Linked DNA regions of Homo sapiens. The protein of the gene in region 3 interacts with the protein of the main gene of each other region in a pairwise test. Each region holds a gene or a part of one and is shown on either strand. Other genes may lie near its edges. The genes, in order: BMF, RIMS3 and BCL2L2-PABPN1.

Region 1 (3,653 bases), on a different chromosome or scaffold from region 3:
CCTGTTCTCTTCTCCATTCAAAGCAAGGTTGTGCAGGAAGAGGAGGATCTGCCACCACACACGATTTTGGTTCTGCTGGTGCTGAAGGGAGAAAAAAAAAAAAGACCAACATAACTCCCAAACGCAATCTTAGACGACTCCCTCTCATTTCCAGTAAAAGTTCAGATCTCCAAGTCTCACGGCTGGCACTTTAATCCTATCAGTACAGCTCACAGCGGGGAGGAGGGGGAGGTGAAAGAGACACTGCCATGTGGAGGAGAGAGTTGAGTTCTCCAAAAACAATTGCAGTTTTAACATTAAAAAGAAAAGACTAGGCTCTATATGCACTATGCACAAGAGGATTAAGCTTTTTCCCCTGCTTGCAGGATTTTCCAGAGTTTAGCCAAGTGCTGCTTTTAATCAGATTGGCTCCCGAGCCCCTCAAACCTCAGCTGCATGAACAACAAACTGGCTTCAGAAAGAGAAGAAGTGCCCCCCTCTCTCCCCCGACTCCAAAGTAACACAGAGAACAAGGGGAAAGGGGGGGCCTCCATCTGCAAGTGATTTGACACTGTGAAGGTCAAAGGGTTAATCTTCAATTTAAACCACACTGCTGAGGCAGCAAAAATCTGATTTCATCCAGTGCAAACACGCACACACACAGACTCACACACACACACACACACACACCCTTGTGCGCCCGCCCGCTCTCCCTCCCCAGCATCTCCAGCTCGGTGCTGCCCTTTTTATAGATGCTCTTGACAGTAAGCCATAAATAATCCCTCTTGGAGCGCTCTCCTACTGACTGGAGCCAATTAAACATTAAGCAAGAACATACTTGAAAACAAAACAAAAACAAAGAATATATACTATGCTCTGGAGGTTATCCCAGGTCCTACTGTCAGGCTGGGAAGCTAGGGGCAAAGTTCAGGGGTCAGTGGCTCACCAGATTGGGGCTGGTGCCCTGCCCACACAGGTACCATTTCCCAGGAGAGGCCTGGGGGGGTGGAAACTGGGGGGTGCTGGAAGAGGCGGTCTTTGTTCTCTCTTTGTCTGCCAGGGCAGGAGGACTGGGCGGGGGCCTCTCCACAGGGTTCTCACTGGACAGGGGAATAAAAACCTAGTGTGCAGAAAGGAGCCAGCACGGGCTGGACTTGGATTACTTCAGTGGCCCCGTCAGCAAGCAAGTTTACATGAGGTGTCCAAGCCTTCTCTTAAACTGTCTTTAACCACAGCACCAGCCCCCACCAGGCAACTACTCCTGGTCAGATGGGAAGAGGAGAGAGGAAGCCAGCGGCACAGCTGGAAAGGGGGCCCAGGTTGCCTGGACTCCCAGAGCTTCCAGGTTCTGTCCAGCCCTGGCCTCCCTGACCTTTCCCAGGGCCACCATGCAGGTTGCTGGCTTCCCCTTCACGCTGCCCTAGGCCACAAAAAGAGAGGCATCCAGGCAGCTGGCCTCAGGGCCTGACAACCCAGGTGAACACGGAATGCCCCCGTCCATCATGGCAACAGCATTCCTCCTTCCCCCGTGGAAGAGCCTGGAAAACAACCCGGCAAGCTGGAGGCGCAGCTCCTGCCCGGAGGGGAAGGGAAATCGGGCGTGCCACAGAAGAGGCCTGGCAGACAGAGGGTGGGGAGATGGATGGCTTCCTCGTGTTTTGTAAACAAAGATGAGTAAAAAGAGGAAACACACCCGGCTTAACAAAATCTGGTTAGAGTAAAACAGCGTGAAAATGGACTCAGCTGCAAACCCGAAGCCTCCGGCCTGCAGCAGCTGGGCCAAAGACCCCCTCTCCTCCCCTCCCCAGCTGCTGACCGAGACAGGTGCAGAGGTCATGTGGCCGAACAAGAGGAGAATCCAGGAGCAGACTCATCCCTGGAGAGGCCAGTCTGCTGGAATTCCAGTTCTCCTGAGGTGCTTGTCTGAGAAGACCGGTGGCAAGAACAATCATCACCTCATAATAGTAACGTGGGGTTAGGGTGGCAGTCGGGGGTGGGGAGGTGCCAGGCTCTGTTCTGTGTGTTCTGCATCCTTGCTTCTCAAAGGGTGGTCCATGGACTAGCAGCCTCAGCATCATCAGAGAGCTGCCTGGAAATGCAGACCCAGCATCAGAAGATTCCCCAGGTGATTTTGAGGCACATTATCATGCCCATTACTTAGCGACCACATAGCTAGTTTAAGTGGCAGGGACTGGACTGAACCTAGACCATCTGGCCCTAGAGCTATGTCCCTTCCCATTATCTCTGTGCTCAGAGTGCCACTACCTTTCTTTATACCAAAGCAGACCCTCTAGCCTCCCCTTTACTAAATCATCTCAAAACAGCTCAATGGCCAAGGAAAGCAGATGAGAATTCTATGATTTGGGGCTGAGGCAATTCTCATCTCTGTATGCCTCAGTTTTCTCCCAAATTCCACTAATGGAGGCCACCTACTCCCTGGGCAACTTGAGATCTCTGAAGATGAGGCACAGACTCCCATCATCTGGGAGCGTTGGGGGACTCAGAAGCAGCTGTGGGCCAGAGAGTGCTTTCAGACAGGAAGGCTGAGGTCTTGCAGGGGACCCAGGCAGGCCTAGGTGCAGGAGGCAGGATACATGGGCCGGCCCTTGGGAAGGAACTAGTTTCCATGCCTCTGCGTGTGACAGTCCTTAAGGCTCATGAATTGGTAAGGAAGGCTCTATGGTGCATGGATCCCCAGGGACCAGGAATCAGAGGACCTGGCTTTCGGGTTGGATCTCCCATCAACCTGCTCATGAGTTCTCTCTTGGCTTATAAGGAAAATGCAGGTATTGTACTAGATCAATGGTTTCTAAACCCAACTGTGTCACTAAGCCAGCTGAGGTGCTCTTGTAAGTATAGAGTCTCCAGGCCTCTCCCAGACCCACTGGGTCAGAATTTCAAGGAAGGGTCCCAGGAATCTGTATACTGAACAAGCTCCCTTGGTGACATTTTAGAGATCAGAAATCATTTATTGTATATTTTAATCATAAAAGCAATACATGTTAATTGTAGAAATATTGGAAAATACAAGACATTACAGAGGAGGAAATAAAGTCACTCATGATCCTCCAGGCTAGAAAACACTTCACGTGTTGGTGTTTTCTTCAGTCCCTTTCGATCTCTTTCCACCAAAGTAATGTCTTACCCCACTGGCCAAGCCAGAGGTCAATCCTGCCCAGGTGGTTCTGTGGCAGCCAGGCCACAGCCTTTTGGAAACCACAAAGGTGCTCTCCAACCCTAAGGAGTTTGTCATCCACGACTACCTTCAGGATTACAACTCAGAGCTCCAACAACTGAATTCTGTCAGCTGAGTGTAGGGCCTGGGAACCACCCATGGGCCCATGAGCCCTCTCTGGCTACAAGCAGATACCACACAGGCTCCCTTTGGCCTTCTCCCGCCTCAGGGCAGCCCTCACAAGACCCTTTTCCATGAGGAAACCAAGATAATCAAAGAATGCCCTGATTACAAAATACAACAATAAATAAAATTTTTCCTAAAAGTTTAACAAAAGGGCCTGACTAGAAAGGAAAGAAAAAAGACTTGAAGGGAGGCCAGTGGGAGAAACAGTGAGGAGGAAGGAAGTTGGCCTTCACTGAACAGGATGAAGAACACAAAGATACCAAAACACCAGAGAACGTGGGATCTTCCACAAGAGGGTGTGGAGGAGAAGGGG
Region 2 (3,653 bases), on a different chromosome or scaffold from region 3:
AAGGAGTGGAGGCGAGGAGGCACCTCTGGAGGAGCTATCCTGGGGAGGAGCTGCTGGAAGCCAACACAGCCAACACCTAAGAGAGGGAGGGGGCAGGGAGGTTCTGTCTGAGAGCTCATGAAATGGGCCAGACTGAAGCTAACAGGACCAAGCGTAGGCTTCAGGTAGTACCGTCATCCCTCAGTATCCATGGGGGATTGGTTCCAGAACCCTACCTCGCCCCCACCCAGGGATACCAAAATCCTTGGATGCTCCAGTCTCTAATATAAAATGGCAGCCAGGAGGCCAAGGCAGGCGGATTGCCTGAGTTCAGGAGTTCAAGACCAGCCTGGGCAACATGGTGAAACCCCGTCTCTACTAAAATACAAAGAAAAAAAATTAGCCATGTGTGGCGGTGTGCGCCTGTAGTCCCAGCTACTCGGGAGGCTGAGGCATGAGAATTGCTTGGACCTGGGAGGTGGAGGTTGCAGTGAGCTGAGATTGTGCCATTGCACTCCAGCCTGGTGACAGAGCGAGGCTCTGTCTCTAAATAAATAAATAAATGGCAGCCAGGTACAGTGGCTTATGCCTGTAATCCCGGTACTTTGGGAGGCTGAGGTGGATGAGGTCAGGAGTTCCAGACTAGCCTGGCCAATACAGTGAAACCCCGTCTCTACTACAAATACAAAAAATTAGCCAGACATGGTGGCACATGCCTGTAATCTCAGCTACTCAGGAGGCTGAGGCAGGAGAATCACTTGAACCTGGGAGGTAAAGGTAGGTTATGGTGAGCCAAGATTGCGCCAGTGCACTCCAGCCTGGGCAACAGAGTGAGACTCCATCTCGAAGATAAAATAAAATAAAATAATAAAAATAGCATAGTGTTTGCATATAATCTATGCACATCCTCCCATATGCTTTATTTTATTCAGTTTTTGAGACAGGGTCTCACTATATTGCCTAGGCTGGCCTCAAACTCCTGGGCTCAAGCAATCCTCCAGCCTCAGCCTCCTGAGCAGCTGGGACTACAGGCACAGGCCACTGCAACCAGCTTCTTCCATATACTTTCAATCATCTCTAGATTATACTGGTGTGCCGCATAATGACATTTCAGTCAACAATGCATCATATACATGACAGTGGGCCCGTAAGATTATAATGGAGAATATATAGAAACCTGATATATGGTACTTGATATTGGCATTGCAGATCAAATAGGGGACATGATTGATATTCAGTAATGGTGCTAGGATATACGGTTTTCCATATGAAAAAATACATATAAATTTATATATATATATATATATATATATATATATATATATATATATATGCCATCTAGGTTTGTGTAAGTACACTCTATGATGTTCACACACTGAAAATGACTGTACTTATAATACCTAACACAATGCCTACATATCACTTCCTTTGCATGGATTCAGGGTAGTACTCGGCACACAGCAAATCAAATTTTGCTTTTTGCAACTCTGTGGAATTTTTTTTCCCTGAATATTTTCTATCCAAGGTTGGTTGAATCCACAAACACAGAACCCATGGATACAGAGGGCCAACTATACTTCCTAGCTGCAAGGAAAAGCGATAAGAAAATTACTAAAGGGCCTCTAGGTGCCAGGCGCTGTTGGGTGTAACAAGTCAAATAAGCCACAGTTCCTACACATTAAATTGAAATACCTCATGCAAAGCATCTAATAGGAGCTCAGTAAAGTATTGTTAGAGCATAGAACTCAAGTGGGTATTATTATTCCCATTTTAAATATGAGGAGACTGAGGTTCAAAGAAGGGAAGTGACTTGCTTAAGATCACAGAATTGGTGATAGAATAAACTCTACGATGGCCAATGCAGGGCCCCCACTGAGCTCACCCTTCCTGTCGCATGGTCACCATTACCCCACTCAACCTGCCCTTAATAAGACTCACCCATGGGTGGTGTTGCCAGTGTCTGTCGCCCCACAATCTGAGCTGGTCCCAGCCCATCCAGGAAATCGCTGAACTGGCTTTCAGCCCCTAGCCGGGTAGTGGGGAAGATGAACCTGCAGGAGGAGGCAGAGGGACGCGTGAGGGGGTCAGGGCAACCTGAGGATGAAAGTATAGCTGGCAGGCTGCCATGCTCTGGCCCTGGGGCCCTGGGCACGTCCCTCTGTGCCTCAGTTTCTCCTCTAAACAGTATGATTGCACTACTCTGGGAAAGGACAAACAGAACTGTTTATTTCTGCATACTGAAGAAAAATACTTTGATGTCACTTGAGAAAATAAACTAATAACAATACATAATGATGCTATTTAATCCTTAATGTCCAGGGACTTCTGAAGTGACCCTTACAAGGCAGGGCTTGCTGGACACCTGTGTCCTCACCAGGGCATATCAGTGCTAAGAACCAGAGACATAGGTCAGAAATTTCAATGCCTGGAACAAGTTACAAGAACTGAGGTTTGAGTTGACTGCAAGTTTGAAATCCAAGTCAAACATGAGGTGGTGCCCAGAACAGCAGCTAAGACCAAAATAACACAATTACAGGGTTGAGGTGAATGGCAAGTGATGGTGGTTGGTGGTTGTTCCATGACTGTGTGGGGGTCTAGAAACAGTAACAAGAAAAGCTGACAGTGATTGACAACTGGCCAGGTGCCAATGGTACATTAAAAATTCCACATGGGTTATATCTTTTAATCCTTACAACCACTCTGTGTGGTAGGAGCTATTATCCAGTCTTACAGATGAGAAAACAGAGGCTCCAAAAGGTAAAATTGCCTTGCCTGCAAAACAAAATTCATAGGGTTTTATATGTTGAGGATTAGGGCAAATGAAAAGTTCCAGACAAACAGAAAGCACTAAATGATAGTTCCGGTTGCTGCTGTTGTTATCATCAAGGGAAAAGTGCTACTTCTCTTTTGTGCTCCAGTCTAGATATTCTGGGTGTGGCCAGCTGAGAAAGGACAGATGAGGGAGGGTTGGCCCTGCCAACCCTCAGGGGCTATGATAGAATAAAGTTCTAAGATCTCCTAGAAAGGCCCAGGCTCCTGGCTGCAGAGATAAAAGGCTGTCCAAGGAAGAATCTCCTACTAGATAGTTTGGCCTTGAGTCCCCCTTGGCTAGCGGCCAGCAGGGAGGAAAAAGTAGGCTGTGTATGCTTGTCAGAGAGAGCCTGTGTCTCTCCCTGACTAGGCCCAGCCTCCACCCCACAGGGAGGGGCTTCAAGGCCCCACTTTTATTGGCCATGGTCAACAACAGCCTAATATCACATTCTTAGGACAATGATATCTGAGAAGGTTAAATAAAGAAACTTAGACTCTCAAGGTCACAGAATTTTAGGAGCTGGATATAGTGTGGAGATTGTGAACAAAGGTCATGGAATCAAATGGCCTTAATTCCAATTCTGACTCCATCACCACTTAATAGCTGTGACCTTGGGTAAGGTGGCCCACCCTCTTCCTCTCCCTGTTTCTCCACTTGTAAAATGGAGATAATGGTAATACCCACAACCCTCAGGGTTGCTGTAAGTGTTAAATGATCCCTGTTAGGCCGGGTGCAGTGGCTGTAATCCCAGCACTTTGGGAAGCTGAGGTGGGCGAATCACCTGAGGTTGGGAGTTCGAGACCAGCCTGACCAACATGGAGAAACCCCATCTCTACTAAAAATCCAAAATTAGCCAGGCGTG
Region 3 (3,653 bases):
CGAGGAGGGTAAATCACCTGAGGTCAGGAGTTCGAGACCAGCCTGGCCAACATGGCGAAACCCCGTCTCTACTAAAAATACAAAAATTAGCTGGGCATGGTGGCGTGCGCCTGTAATCCCAGCTACTCAGCAGGCTGAGGCACGAGAATGACTTGAACCCGTGAGGCGGAGGTTGCAGTGAGCCGAGATCGTGCCACTGCACTCCAGTCTGGGCAGCAGAGTGAGACTGTCTCAAAAAAAAAAAAAAGCTTTTTGAATGGTGACTTGTAAGATCCTTCCCTATTAGTCTATAAACTGTAAAAGACAGGGAACCATCTTATATTTGTGTTCCCTTTGCCTATCACTCTGTGCTCAGTAAATGATAACTGAATGAGTCATCTTCAGTAATGAATAATCTTATTTTTTTAAAAAAGTAAAAAAATAAATGAATGAATACTCGTATTTATTATCCTGCCTGTTGTTGATGCATAGAGAATATCAAAGAGATAAGTTTTCCTCTGAGAATGAATTTTTTGAAATTTGGTATGTAATGGTGTGAGATTCACCCATTATAATTCTCTCTAAGTAATAACCTATAAACAAAGGACCATGGAGTTTTGGAAAAAGTGAAACTCCAATGATACTGTGCCCCAGAAGACGGGAAAATGTATTAATAAAAGGGAATCGGCCGGGCGCAGTGGCTCACGCCTGTAATTCCAGCACTTTGGGAGACCGAGGTGGGTGGATCACGAGGTCAGGAGATCAAGACCATCCTGGCCAACATGGTGAAACCCCGTCTCAACTAAAAATACAAAAATTAGCTGGGCGTGGTGACCTGCGCCTGTAGTCCCAGCTACTCGGGAGGCTGAGGCAGGAGAATCAATTGAACCCGGGATGCAGAGGTTGCAGTGAGCCGAGATCGCGCCACTGCACTCCAGCCTGGGCGATCTCAAAAAAAAAAAAAAAAAAGAAGAAGAAGAAGGGAATGGCTCAGTGGAGTTAAGAAAAGGAGAATTAAGTAGTAAAAATGGGTGAGGGCATTCATAGTTCTTCCCAGAAAAGTTTTCTCCCCAAACGACATAAATATTTGACGTCTTGGTAGTTTCATCCCTATTTTTATCTCCTTTCTTGAAATTTTTACAGACTACAATAATGCTCTATGATCTGGAACTACTTTGAAATTTTTACAGACTATAATAATGACCTATGATCTAGAGCTACACTTTAATATGATAGCCACTAGTCACACATGGCTACTGACCACTTGAAACATGAGTAGTCCAACTTGAGATGTGCTAAGTGTTGAATACACACTGAATTTTGAAGACTTAGTATGAAAAACAGAATGTGACATAATTCATTAATAACTGTTTAATATTAATTCCATGTTGAAATGATAATATTTTTATATACTGGGCTAAATAAAATATTAAAATTGGTTTAATAATTTCTTTTTGCATTTTAAATGAGGTTACTAGAAAATGTAAAACTACATGTGGCTTGCATTATATTTCTATTGGACAGTGCTGATGTAGAACCATGGAGTCTTTCTCCTTTACTGACCTCTGTCTTGGAGCAGACCTCAATAATCTTCTAATGTGGTCTGGTCCTGCTTACCTTGGCTCCCTAAGTTTGCCTTTGCATGGAAGTGGGGTAGCCATTTAAATGTGAAGGACCCTCTGTTGGGCTGCTTAATTTCCATCCTGCTTCGTTAACTTTTTAAAAATTTTGTACCTAAAGAACTTGTTTTCATATACTGTACTGGAAATATCTGGAAATATATGTTCATTGTCAAAGAATCAGAAAATACTGACAGCAAAAAGAACAAAATAAAAGCACTCATAAAGCCCACTATCCAGAGACAATCACTAATGATATTTTGGCATATATACTTCCTGAAAGTTTCAATATGCAAATATATATCAAGGCACACAGATATAAATATTTTAGCAAAATGGGATCATACTGTATATATTATTTTCTAATCTATTTTCTTTTTTTACCCAATTAAAAAAAAAAGACAAACATCTTCCCATGTCAATAAATATATTTTTCCAATTTTGTTTGTCATAGTTTTACCCAAAAGTCACCCTAGAAATGAGGCCTTCTCTGACCACTCAATTTAAAATTGAACTCTTACGTGTGTATATATACACACACATTCCCCTCAATGAATTATTTTTCTTTATGGTATTCATCGCCTTCTCACATATTACATAATTGTTAAGTTTTCTGTTTCTTTTACTATAATATAAGCAACATGAGAACAGAGATTTGCATCTGTCTGTTCACTCTACCTCAGAGCCTGTAACTGTGCTTAGCACACAGATGATGCTTGAATATTTGCTGCATAAATGACTGACTGAATAAACTACACAGCATTTCATTATGGTGTATTTTCTGCTGAGTTTCAAAATAGTCGATTTATTTCTGTATTTCTCCTGTATCTACATTTAAGGCAAATTTTATTTTATTTTATTTTATTTTTTATTTTTATTTTTTTTGAGACGGAGTCTCACTCTGTCGCCAGTCTGGAGTGCAGTGGCGCCATCTCGGCTCCCTGCAACCTCCGTCTCCCGGGTTCAATCGATTCTCCTGCCTCAGCCTCCCAAGTAGCTGGGACTACAGGGACTGCGCCACCACACCCAACTAATTTTTGTATTTTTAGTAGAGACGGGGTTTCACTGTGTTAGCCAGGACCGTCACGATCTCCTGACCTTGTGATCCTGACCTCGTGATCCGCCCGCCTCGGCCTCACAAAGTGCTGGGATTACAGGCGTGAGCCACCGCGCCCAGCCTTAAAGCAGCTTTTAAAGTCTTCAAAGGATTTGCTATTAAGTTACAACACAGAGGGCCGGGCGCGGTGGCTTACGCCTGTAATCCCAGCACATTGGGAGGCCGAGGCGGGCGGATCACGAGGTCAGGAGATGGTAACCATCCTGGCTAACACGGTGAAACCCCGTCTCTACTAAAAATACAAAAAATTAGCCGGGCGTGGTGGCGGGCGCCTGTAGTCCCAGCTACTCGGGAGGCTGAGGCAAGAGAATGGAGTGAACCCGGGAGGTGGAGGTTGCAGTGAACCGAGATCGCGCCACTGCACTCCAGCCTGGGCAACACAGCGAGATTCCATCTCAAAATAAATAAATAAATAAAAATTTAAAAAAGTAACAACACAGAATATCTACAATCTATCCATTTACTAATAATTGTAACTAAGTGTTGCCCAACTTTATTGAAGGTGTCATTTGTCCTAACACACTTAGGACCTTCTAATAGATTCAGAAGGTCCTAAGTGTGTTCTACTAGGTTCATCACAATTTAGCCCAAATATGCTGCTCTATGATGATTTGGTTTAATACAGGATTAAATTTTGGGCTATCTAAAGCGATAGATGGATTATATTTCCTTCATACAGTTCTCCACCAGTGTTATTTCTCGCTTAGGACCTTCTGAATCTCCATTTGGTGTTTTTAGAAGAAACAGTGGTCAAAACTCAACATCATATTTGCTTTTAGATGTCACAGAAGGTGGTGTCCACTATATCATTGTCTTCTTAGAAAAGCCACAAAATTTTTTTTGCCCCTCTTGAGTAACTGATAGGCTTTTATAAATCCTAAGAGGAATGTGAATTTCATTCTGTATTTTAATTTGCTTTAGCCACCAAGAAGCTCACA

What was found.
Region 1: the proteins of BCL2L2-PABPN1 (region 3) and BMF interact in a two-hybrid assay, tested with the Homo sapiens proteins (one large-scale study listed by BioGRID).
Region 2: the proteins of BCL2L2-PABPN1 (region 3) and RIMS3 interact in a two-hybrid assay, tested with the Homo sapiens proteins (one large-scale study listed by BioGRID).

The regions. Positions count from the first base shown.
Region 1 is NC_000015.10:40,091,808-40,095,460, forward strand, and holds part of BMF (bcl-2-modifying factor), read right to left. Parts: intron 2,069-3,653; exon of another isoform or gene 1,796-2,068; intron 82-1,795; coding exon 1-81. UniProt on the Homo sapiens protein: May play a role in apoptosis. Isoform 1 seems to be the main initiator.
Region 2 is NC_000001.11:40,631,152-40,634,804, forward strand, and holds part of RIMS3 (regulating synaptic membrane exocytosis protein 3), read right to left. Parts: intron 2,031-3,653; coding exon 1,918-2,030; intron 1-1,917. UniProt on the Homo sapiens protein: Regulates synaptic membrane exocytosis.
Region 3 is NC_000014.9:23,313,194-23,316,846, reverse strand, and holds part of BCL2L2-PABPN1 (BCL2L2-PABPN1 protein), read right to left. Parts: intron 1-3,653.